Regions from separate parts of the Homo sapiens genome. Here region 2 is linked to region 1. Evidence: fine-mapped expression QTL. Tissue or cell type: whole blood. Region 1 holds a variant in brackets; the other region holds the start of a gene. All regions are shown on one strand. Distances are between the middles of the regions. Region 1 holds the start of C11orf91 (chromosome 11 open reading frame 91). Region 2 holds the start of CD59 (CD59 molecule (CD59 blood group)).

What was found. PIP is the estimated chance that this variant, and not a neighbour inherited with it, causes the effect.
Region 2: it holds the start of CD59, and the variant in region 1 is fine-mapped to the expression of CD59 in whole blood (TOPMed, PIP above 0.99).

What each region holds. Positions count from the first base shown.
Region 1 is chr11:33,698,762-33,704,135 of GRCh38, forward strand. C11orf91 (chromosome 11 open reading frame 91) reads right to left here and starts at 2,065. Exons shown (of 2, transcript NM_001166692.2): 1 at 1,484-2,065. The coding sequence starts at 1,979. CD59 (CD59 molecule (CD59 blood group)) reads right to left here. Exons shown (of 4, transcript NM_000611.6): 4 at 4,249-5,374. RefSeq lists silencers at 1,731-1,820, 2,001-2,240. The variant C/T (reference allele first, on the strand shown) is at 2,516.
Region 2 is chr11:33,733,933-33,739,306 of GRCh38, forward strand. It overlaps CD59 (CD59 molecule (CD59 blood group)), which reads right to left and starts at 2,491. Exons shown (of 4, transcript NM_000611.6): 1 at 2,450-2,491. RefSeq lists a silencer at 2,140-2,609.

The DNA.
Region 1 (5,374 bases):
CTTCTTCTTCTAATTTTTTTTTTTTTTTTTTTTTTTTGAGAGGGAGTCTCACTCTTTCACCCAGGTTGGAGTGCAGTGGCACAATCTTGGCTTACTGCAACCTCGGCCTCCTGGGTTCAAGCGATTCTCCTGCCTCATCCTCCCGAGTAGATGAGATTACAAATGTGTGCCACCAAGCCCGGCTCATTTTTGTATTTTAGTAGAGACAGGGTTTTACCATGTTGGTCAGGCTGGTCCTCAATGATCCTCTTGTTGGTCAGGCTCCTGACCTCAAATGATCCACCCGCATTGGCCCCCCCAAAGTGCTGAGATTACAAGTGCCAGCCACCACACCCGGCCCCTGGATTTCTTAACTATGTATTCGGTTAAGATTTCTTAACTATGAATACATAGTATTATGTATGTATTCATAGTTAAGAAATCCAGGACTTAGCAAAGCCCAGTTTTTCTAGGGACTGTCTTCCTTCCATGGCTATGAGAAAGGGTGCATTACAGTGTGTCTGATGAACTGAAGACCATTTCCATGGCCACACGGACCTAAGCATTTAGGTTATTTCATACTTCCCTTCTCTGTGTGGCAGGGGAAGCCAACTTAAGCCGTTATATACGATAGTTGGAATGATCTTTTTAGAACTATCTGCCCTTCTCCAGTGGTCAAGGACAAGCCTTAGCCAAAACAAGTGATGGGAAAGACAAAGTCTGCAGGACAACCTACCGCTACTGAAAGTTCTACTTTGCAATAGGTCCTTCTTGGAGTACAAGGCATTTAACAACTTTACCCTCCAACAGGGAGGAGTCATTCAGCTCGTAGGCTGAGGGATCCTGCCCGCATCAGCACACGTGGTCCAGAGCCCTAAGACTTCAGACGTAAGACCAGATATCAGCCCAGGATCCTGGTGAGAGAACTACCGGCGCCAAGGCCACAGAGTCCCAGGGGGGCTGCCCCCCAGCATTGAGAAGTGGAGTGTCCCAAAGCTGCCCTGGAAACGGCCTTGGGCCTTGTGGTTCTTGCACAACTCCCACCTCCCCCTACAGACAACTGACAGTCACCTTACTTCACCTTCCCCCCATGGAGAGCCCCGGTTTAGGACCGAACATTAAAGCTTAGGGACTGTCTGTGGTGGGTGGAGCTCCAGAGTACAGGGTAGGAGGATGACTGTGCAGGAGGATTAAAGTTCAGGACGGGGTGGTGGCGGATGGAGTTCCAGGTGTGGAGGCTCAGAGTCCAGATGACCCAAAGGGTTTAGGACGGAGGGAGGATGGAGTTTGGGACTAAGAGGCTCATGAAGTTCAGATCTGTGGTGGGGGGAGGAGTCGGTTAAGTCCAGGATAAGGGAGTCTGGGTGCTAGGGGATAGATTTTGGATCTGGGACTACTGGGGGCTGGAGTCAAACCAGGCTACATTTCGGGTCGGGGCACGGAGCCAAGGAGGGAGCTAGGGCAGGCTAAGGCTGGGCTCGGTGGCCCTGGCGAGGTCACGCACAGCTCTGGGAGTCGAAGCCGTCCCCAGTGATGGTGAGCAACTCCAGCTCCTTAATCCGGATCTCCAGCTCGCAGAGCTCCTCCGGGTGGGAGGCAGAGGCGAGCCTGGGGGTCGAGGGGCAGGGGACCAGGGGCGAGGCAACCACCTCAGGCCCCGGCGGCGGTGAGTAGAAGAAGCGCAGAGGCTCGTAGGGGATGGAGGCCAGGCCGGAGGGCCAGGGCGAGGGCCAGGGGCGCTCGCTGGAGGGACCCAGGCCGGGTGGTGGCGGGGGCGGGGGCGCCGGGGCGGGGAGCGCCTGGGACAGGGACCGGGCCCCCGCCGCCCCGCCCACTGGCGCCCCGCCCGCCTTCAGCGGCACGAAGAGCTTCTTCCAGATGTTGAAGTCGCTGAGCGGGGACGAGGAGATGCCGCGGTCGTACAGGGACGGGAAATAGAGGGGCGGAGCCGACCGCTGGCTCATGGTGGGGCTGTGGCTGCCGCGCCGCCCCTTTGGCATCGTTTGAATGAGGGTCTGCGTGGGAGGAACCCCGCGCCGGGAGACGCGCGCTCAGGCCCCGAGTCGCCGGGGTTTCGAGGTTCCACAAGCCCCGCCCCGATGGAGCGCGGCCCCACCCTTTCGCCTCAGCCCGGCCCCTAACAGGCGGGGTTCCAAAGCCCGGACGACCACGTCCCGGAACGCGGCCCCGCCCACCTCGGCTGGCCGCACCCCGCAGTTAGAAAGCCACGCCCCCTGGCTCGCCTCGCCTCGCCTCCCGTCCCTCGACTCCGCCCACCGCCTCGCTCTTGCTCTGCGACCCCGCTGGCTTCCGTTGTCATATCCCAGCATACCCTCATCCAGAACAGGCAGCGGGCCAGGGCTGCAGAAGAAAGCTTACTTCAGGCTTCCTCTCTTTCTCCCATGAGGGAGAAAAGTATTTCCTAGAAACCTGGCCCCTGCACCAGCAGACTTACCTCATTGCCTCACTGGCCGCGCCCACAGCAAAGAAGTCTGAGAAAATCAGTGTCTGATTTTTCATCCACTACTGTGGGAGG[C/T]AGACAAAGGAGAAGAGGATTGATTGGGAATGGCTGTTAGAGCCAACCTATGTATCTGCCAAACGTTAGCAGTGTTGAGGAAGATTCTAGAAAAGGGGATCCTCATCTGGTTTGTAATAGACCTGAAGGAGTGTTTTCAGTGAAATGCAGTTTAGTTCTCTTCCAAACACAGATATCACCAGGAGCTAACAGGCAACGAGCTAACCACCAAAAGGAAATCCTGTCCGCCCTACCTCAAATACTTCACCCATTGCTTATGAGCGATTTGGACATTTTGTCCAAAGGACATGACAGCTCATTTATGTGAGTAACCTGTATTAGCCATAGACTGAGGGGAAATAACTAATACATTTTCTTGAGAGCCTCTGCCTAATGATCACTGGTATGACTAGTGATGGGTGGAGGGCAGTTAAAGAGTCAGTATCAGCTTCACAAGTTAAATATATATATGCATATGTATCTGCACACACAGTGCAAAGTGTGTGTGTGTGTGTGTGTGTGTGTGTAGCAGCAAAGTGGAGAGAGTCAGATATTCAAGCTGGGTAGCCTTGGACAAGTTGCTTGACTTTTAAGTAGGTTTTCCATAAAATAGAAATAAGAAAACCAGGCTGCCTCATAGGGTTGTGATCAAACAGAAGACGGAACAGTGTGTGTGTGAAACACTTGAACTTGGACACTTTGTCCAAACACAAGAGGCAGCTGTCCCTACTAAGGGGCATGTCTGAAACTGGGAAGCTTTTTCTTCCCACACTGAGCTTCCCACACTTAGTTGTCACACGCAGTATTTGCTCTCTGACTTTGGCAGCCACCCATCATTGTTTATTCATACAAGTGATCACTAGGCTGAGGCTCTCAAGAAAATGTATTTCCCCTCAGTCTATGGCTAATACAGGCCATGTGCGATAGCTCAGCACCCAGCCTGTAATCCCAGCACTCTGGGAGTCTGAGGTGGGATCTCTTGAGGCCAAGAGTTTGAGAACAGCCAGGGGCAACATAGCGAGATTCTGTCTCTATAAAATAATTTAAAAAATTAACCAGGTGTGGTGGCATTTGCCTGGAGCCACTCAGGAGCTGAAGTGGGAGGATTTCTTGAACCAAGGAGGCTGAGGTTGAGGCTGCAGTGAGCCACAATCATAGCACTGCACTCCAGCCTGGGTGACAAGGCAGGACCCTGTCTCAAAATAAATAAAATAAAATAAAATAAAAAATACCCTTATCTTCCATTAGTTTCCCCCACATATTTAACTTCCCATAATTTACTGCCCAAGAAGCTCAAACCTCTTTTCCTTTGTCTTATCACTTTTCTACAATCGCCCATTGTTAAAATTGTATATAAGCTCTCAAGCCACTTCTTTGGGTTTTCACTTTGTTTCTGTAAGAACCCCATGTACCTGCGTAATAAACTTTGTCTTCTGTTAATCTGTCTTTGTCAGTTTAATTCTCAGGCCCCAGGCTCTGAACCTAAGAGATTAGAAGAAAAATTTTTTCACCCCTACAGAACCACAGTAATGGTAAGAACCAGGGTTTTGGACTCAAGACTTGGGACCAAACCCTGGATCCACTATGTATTTGGCTGTGCGGCTGAACCTTTCTCAACCTCATTTTTTCATCAATATAATGGGAATAGTAATGGCATCTACTTGCTTAGGTTGGCAAGACTAAGTGAGACAGTTTAAGTACCTGGCAATGGCTTGTGTTCAACATTAGCTCTTGTTATTACATATTAAAGGCCCTTAGAAGGAAAAGAGATTTTGCGTTATATTTTTTAAATGAAGCAATACAATCATTTTTTATGTATATATCTAGTTGAGGAGAAAAAATTACAGATTTTTTCCCCCTTACTCCAAGATAATCTAAACAGATTTTACTCTGGATGGCTTAATTATAACATAATCCATGAAGTTATAGCCAGGGGGTTAAATAAGAAGTTGATGACAAACTTGGTTTCTCTAACAAGTATGCAAGAAAACTCAAGTGCCACAATGAACACCCATAAACTGCTGTCAGGAGGCAAAGTCCCTATGAGGTAATAATAAACCCACGAGGTTAAGGCAAAACCCTACGGTTGTTTCTGCAAACAAATGTCCAGGAAACTCAAGTTTGTGATGAAAGAACAGTCTTGAATTCAACTTCAGCAGAACCTTTCCCTCCCTGGGCTCCAAAGCACTATGTCACCTACCTCTCCACTCAAATGCCCCATTAAGTACCATCCTGTTGGAGCTTCCTAACGCCCCTGCTCCCTGGTTTCATTTGGAACCAACTGAGAGACACAAGTCCCTCTTCGTTGATCAGGGTCAGTTGAAAGATGTAGCTGTCGGCCTGGTAGCCAGGTGGGCTTGCTAATCCTGCACCTCTACCTTAAGCTTACCCAGCGTGAGGCCAGGTTAGAAAGTCACAGGCCTTGGCAGCAGGCAGAGAGCCTTTACTGTCATAGTGAAGAGCTTGCCAAGGACAGGACTGATTCTTCCTCCAGCCTCACCTATCGGGGCAGTCATTGTTCCGCTGTCAGGAGGAGAGGGGCCAGAAGGGTCACACTGAAGAAATGTGACATGAGGGTGGAGGTTCCTGTCCAGCATTCTTCACTCTCTATTTAACCGAGGCTGACTCATTGCAGTTGGCACTAATTTTCCATTGCCACAGCCCTCTCCAGCCAGGAGGGCCTGGAGTACCTGAGGTGCTGTTTGCCGGGTTCCCTTGGTCCTCAGACTGCTCCCTTCAGAGAAAGCACAGAAAGCCTTCTCTGTCCCAAGGAGCCCCCCTTCCCCTCCCCCACTCCAGCTCTGCATCTGGACACACTGTCAGCCATCAGATCCTGACCAGGTGCTCAGCCTCTTTAGGGATATGTCACAATTTGCCGTG
Region 2 (5,374 bases), 35 kb after region 1:
AATGTTTTTATTTTATAGGAAATTAGTGGAGGCCCAGTGGGATGAAATTACCTGTCCCAAGGCAACATGTTAGTCGCAAAACCACCCTGGATGGATCTTGTTTCTATTCGCCAGGGGCTGGCAACTCACAAGATACCTAGTGTCAGCAATGTCAGAGAACTAGAGCTTTTGAACCCCAGGTCTGCGTGTCACCTTGGAGACATACACAATACCTGCTCTAGCCATGCCTGTTGAAGCGCCCAGACAAACATCCATCACTCAGTTCACGGAACAAATTACATCAGCAGGAAGAGACAAAGAGAAAACAACCATCATAACGGAAAAGGCTTTCCAATCCAGCCAAGGTTCTCATGCCAGGAATAACCACTCCAAAACTCTTTGTGTGATATACATATAAATTCTAGGGTACATGTGCAGGATGTGCAGATTTGTTTCATAGGTAAACGTGTACCATGGTGGTTTGCTGCACCTATCAACCCATCACCTAGGTATTAAGCCCAGCATGCATTAGCTGTTTTTCCTAATGCTCTATCCCCACCCACCCCACCTGCCGACAGGCGCCAGTGTGTGTTGTTCCCCTCCCTGTGTCCAAGTGTTCTCATTGGTCAGCTCCCACTTATTAGGCCAGAACTCTTTGGACCAAACAAATCTGCAGCTTCCCCTACAAGGGCCTTTCCTGCAGTTTGTTCCGGAATGCCAATCCCTAACTCTCCAAAGAGTCCTATCTCCGCACTCACGGCCCCTCCCGTGTTAAGTACACATGCAAAACCAAGGTTTAGTGAATATGTTTCCTAAGATATAGGACATAAGTAAAAAGAAGTCTTTGCCTTTAGAAAGCCTCAAGCACTTCTGGGCTTGGCAATGTCTGTGGCGGTTTGGCTGAGGTTCTTAAAGAGGTGGCCCAGAATTTTCCATGCTCTACTTTTCAAGAGCTTCTACCAGCAGCTGTCAAAGATGAATGCCATTAGGCACCCCACTCTCTCACCCTAAGATCCATTTTATTTAGGCTTTTATCTCCTAAGCCACTCAGCTAATGGGATGTTTTTCTTACAGCTAAGTTCAGCAAACAGTTTCTAGTTTCCACTGTGAAAATACAGAGGCCACAAGTTTTAGGACTGTTTGGCTTGTAGGGGAGGCAGCCTCCCTTTCTGCCTCTCCTTCATAAACTGCCACGTAAATAGCCACATTTTGGCAAACGTTGCCATCTCCCTCAACATTCGGGGCTCTGTGCCTTCTTCAGGGAACTGGGAGTAAACCGCCAGGAGTGGAGAACTTGAACAACTGCTCAGGGATCGCAGGGTACCTGAAATAATTAGCAGCCGCCGCGTTTGTGCTGAGCGCTTTCCGTCAATCATCTCAACCACCCTGTGAAGTGAAGCCTATTGTTTTACCCATCAAGTGCTGTTAAATACTTCCAGAAATGACCAGTGAAGAGCCTGGGTATCACTAAACGGCCATAAAAGGCACACTGCTTAATGTTGGTTTTTTTTGTTTGTTCTTTGTGGGTTTTGTTCGTTTTTGAGGCGGAGTCTCGCTCTTATTGCCCAGGCAGTAGGGCAATGGCGCGATCTCGGCTCACCGCTACCTCAGCCTCCCGGGTTAATGTTGTTTTTTGAAAAGTCAGCAGTCAGACTCTAAGAAGGGTGCGGCCCGAGCCGACCCAAGAAAACAAAACATCACGTTGTACTTAAAACGTCCGTTTCGGCCGGGCGCGGTGGCTCACACCTGTAATCCCAACACTTTGGGAGGCGGAGGCGGGCGGATCACGAGGTCAGGAATTCAAGATCAGCCTGACCAACATGGGAAAACCCCGTTTCTACTAAAAATACAAAATTTAGCCAGGCATGGTGGCGCATGCCTGTAATCCCAGCTACTCAGGAGGCTGTGGCAGGAGAATCGCTTGAACCCGGTACACGGAGGTTGCGGTGAACCCAGATCGCGCCACTGCACTCCAGCCTGGGCAACAGCGAAACTCCATCTCAAAAAAAAAAAAAAGTCCGTTTCGCCCGACACCTGCTTTTCAAAATTACACATTTAGACCGCGAGGGGAGAGAGGAACTGCCGTGACCACGGAGGGCTGGCCTTTCCCCCGGCGCAGTTTCTCTGGACCGCTAGAGCTTCCCTTGAGACGAAAGCGATGGCAGGGGCCCGGGTGCGAGGCTGCCCCCGAGGGAATGGGGGGCGCGACGGGGGTAACGGGGCTGCTTCTGGGAGAGGGCGCGCTCCCCGTTTCTCCTTCCTCGTAGATAAAATGAAGCCAGCGTTCGGCTAGGACACCGGGCCGCGGTGACGGGTTGGAAGGGCCAGGCCTCGGGAGGCTCGCCCGGCAGGGGTCGAGTGGAAAGCGAGGACGGGGGTAGCCCCCACAGACCCTCCGCCCGGGCCCAGACTGCCGCCGCCACCTCGGCTCGGCTCACCCAAACCCCAGCAGGCCTTCGGGCCTTCTTACCTGGCGGCGCCCAAGATCCTCTTCCAGCCTCGAGCCGCTTCTGCGCTCAGCCCCCGCATTCTTTCGCTCCAGCCCGCAAGGCTCCGCCCCCCGGCCCCGCCCCTCAGGATGCCCTTGCCCTCCCAGGCTCCCGGCTCCCGCACCGCGCAGCCGCACCTCGGCAGGAACCTCCTCCTCTCCCTCCACCCCCGCGCGGAGCTCAGCCTCCTGGCCCAGGTTCTGAGAAGGCCGGGTGGCCAGGACCCAATGAGCACCTTCAAAACCCCAGGGAACTGAAAGTTTGGGGCGTCCTCCTCGGATTTGCTATGGGACATAAAAACAGTAGGAAACTTCCAAAGACTTCTGATTTTCCCTTTTACTTTTTTTTTAAGTATATTAAAATGTTTTTCAAAACGTTTCTGTGCGTCTTGCTGGTGCCCTGGGTGCCCCAGGGCCTGGCTATCGGGCTATGCGGCCCTGCTGCAGTCTGAAGCTGCTTCCTACTGCGAGGCTTGGGCAGCATCCAAATAGCCATCAGCCACAGCCGCATCCGTATCCGTGCCTTGTGACTTGTTTGAGACCCAAACAAAATGTTATGCGTTTAAAAGCTTACTGGGCTGCTCGGGGACCAGTGTTTTGAATGAACCTCTTCGAGTGTCTCTATCAACTTAGCTGGTAGCTACTGTTCCCCAGCAGCCACCAGAGGCAGGGACAGAAGAGCAAGACCAGGGGATCCGCCTGCATGAGTCTGTCCCTTCAGGGTGGCCTCGCCTCAGGGACTGGATTGTAGGCATGGTTTCAATAACACAGCGGTGTGAAAGTTTAAGAGTTTTTAGTACTTACGGACCCTGGGTGGTACACAGCTTGCCTAGAGGACACACACACACACACACACACACACACACACACACACACGGAGATCAGGGAGAACAGGGAGAGGGAAGGGAGGAACGGACCTTTGGGCCAGCAACTTTATCCAGTTAGGTTTCCTCTGGAGAGCTCTAACTGGTGGATTTAAAAGCAAGCAGGTGAAAAGGCAGAGGTGGGAGGAACTTGAACCAGAGTTTGAAGCTGCAGTAGTGCCCTGTTATCACATCACTGCATGTTTATCTCTGGCCACCAGCTAGAGCCATTTGCGTGGGGTATAGTACTGGAAACTGTCAATGGTGACTGAGACTTGCTTCTGTTATTAAAAGTTAAACATATTCAAAAATGGATGCTGAGGTAACAAAAAATTATAAGCACTCACCAGAACCGCAACCACCATTTGGAACATTAGTTTTATGTGCAGATGTAATTAGAAGTTTCCATTTGCTATTATATTTGGAAAGTGTCCCACTCACTGCAGAACTGACTGTAAGAACGCCATAGGAGGGAGGGTGGGGCTACAGGCCAAAAGTACAAGTCTTCCTCCAAGAGGATGGCCTCTGTTAGAAAGCATGAGACACACTTTGAGGGTCAGGGTGAGAAGATATTACATCTCAGGGCTGCTTGTGTTGAACTGGTCAGGGAAGAAGGCATGAGATAAAATTTAAGCAGGGGGAATCATAGATTACTGAATGTCTTGCAGGGAAAATCATATAGTAACTGTCTTGACGCTTCTACTGTTATTCTGATGGCTTTGGGATGTCAGGGAATGAGTTCCATTTGGTGGTGCTCAAATCCTGGTATTCCTCTATACAAGTGGGAGTTTTTTAAATCAGGATGACTTGCTTTGATATTTAAAGCATGTCTCCTTAAAACAGCTAATACTGTATATTTCCCAAGATGGATTCCAAAGCTCTTTTGTGTACATACCTTACACACATCCTGTTAGCTATTCCTTCCTTGACACGCTTGGCTTCTGAGATGCCACTCTCTCCTAGTTTGGTTCCCTAGAATGGTTTCTTGACCATTCGGTCTTGAGATTCTTTTCCTTTACCCACTAATAATTTGGTGTCCCAGGATTAGACTGAGAACCATGGCTGTGTGTGCTCCCTGGGAGACTATAGTGTATCTACTCTTTTACCTTGGGATGTATGTTTGCAGATGATTCAAAAGTCTGTCTCCATCCCTGACCACTCCCCCTATCTTCATATTCATATCCAGCTGACTGCTGGACATCTCCACTTATATGTTCCACAGACATCTTGAACTTAATGTGCACAAATCTGAATTCATCTTTAAAGAGTGACTGCTTTTCCTGAATTTTTTTCATAAATGAAGACAGAAACCTAGGAATCAACGTTGACCTCTTCCACTCCCTCACATCTACTCAGCCATTCCTGCCTATTTTACCATTTCAATATCTCAATTTCATTCCTTTTTCACATTGCTACTGTGCTAATTCAGATCTGTAGTTTGCGTTGCTTGAGCCATTACAATTCCTTAATACCAGGTCCCCATGTTGCCCATGTCAATTCCTGCATCCCCTGCCCCTTCTCTGCTTGCCCTCCACACGGCTGCTAGAGACCTGGCTAGTTTACCTCTCCAGCCTCATGCCTCACTTTTCATTTTCCACTTCATTTTACCTTGTTATCATCATCCTTTTGTGAATACAATATGCCTGCAGCAGCCAGTATGCAACCATGATCGTCTTTGAGAGGAAAAGTCTTGTGCTAAGGATGGCAGGTCAGAAAGATGGAGCCAATCTGGACTGTTGATAACACCACTGTGCCATCATGTCAGCCTTGAACTAGCTACCTCTGACTATTCGCAAGAATAACCACCCCCAAACTATTTAAGCTACTGTTAATTTAGGTATTTGTCTTATTCTAGTGATATATCAAGCCTCAGAGAAATTAGTAAAAAAAATCAGTTGTGTTTTCAAGGGTCCTCAGAGCCAGAAATGGCCTTTTCACCACCAAAAGTAGAGTCTGGTTTGGGCAACATTAATGCCAACTGTTAAATTCCTGTTACGTGTGAATAAGCATTCTTGCCAATAGCAGAAAATACAGAAGCTTGTTA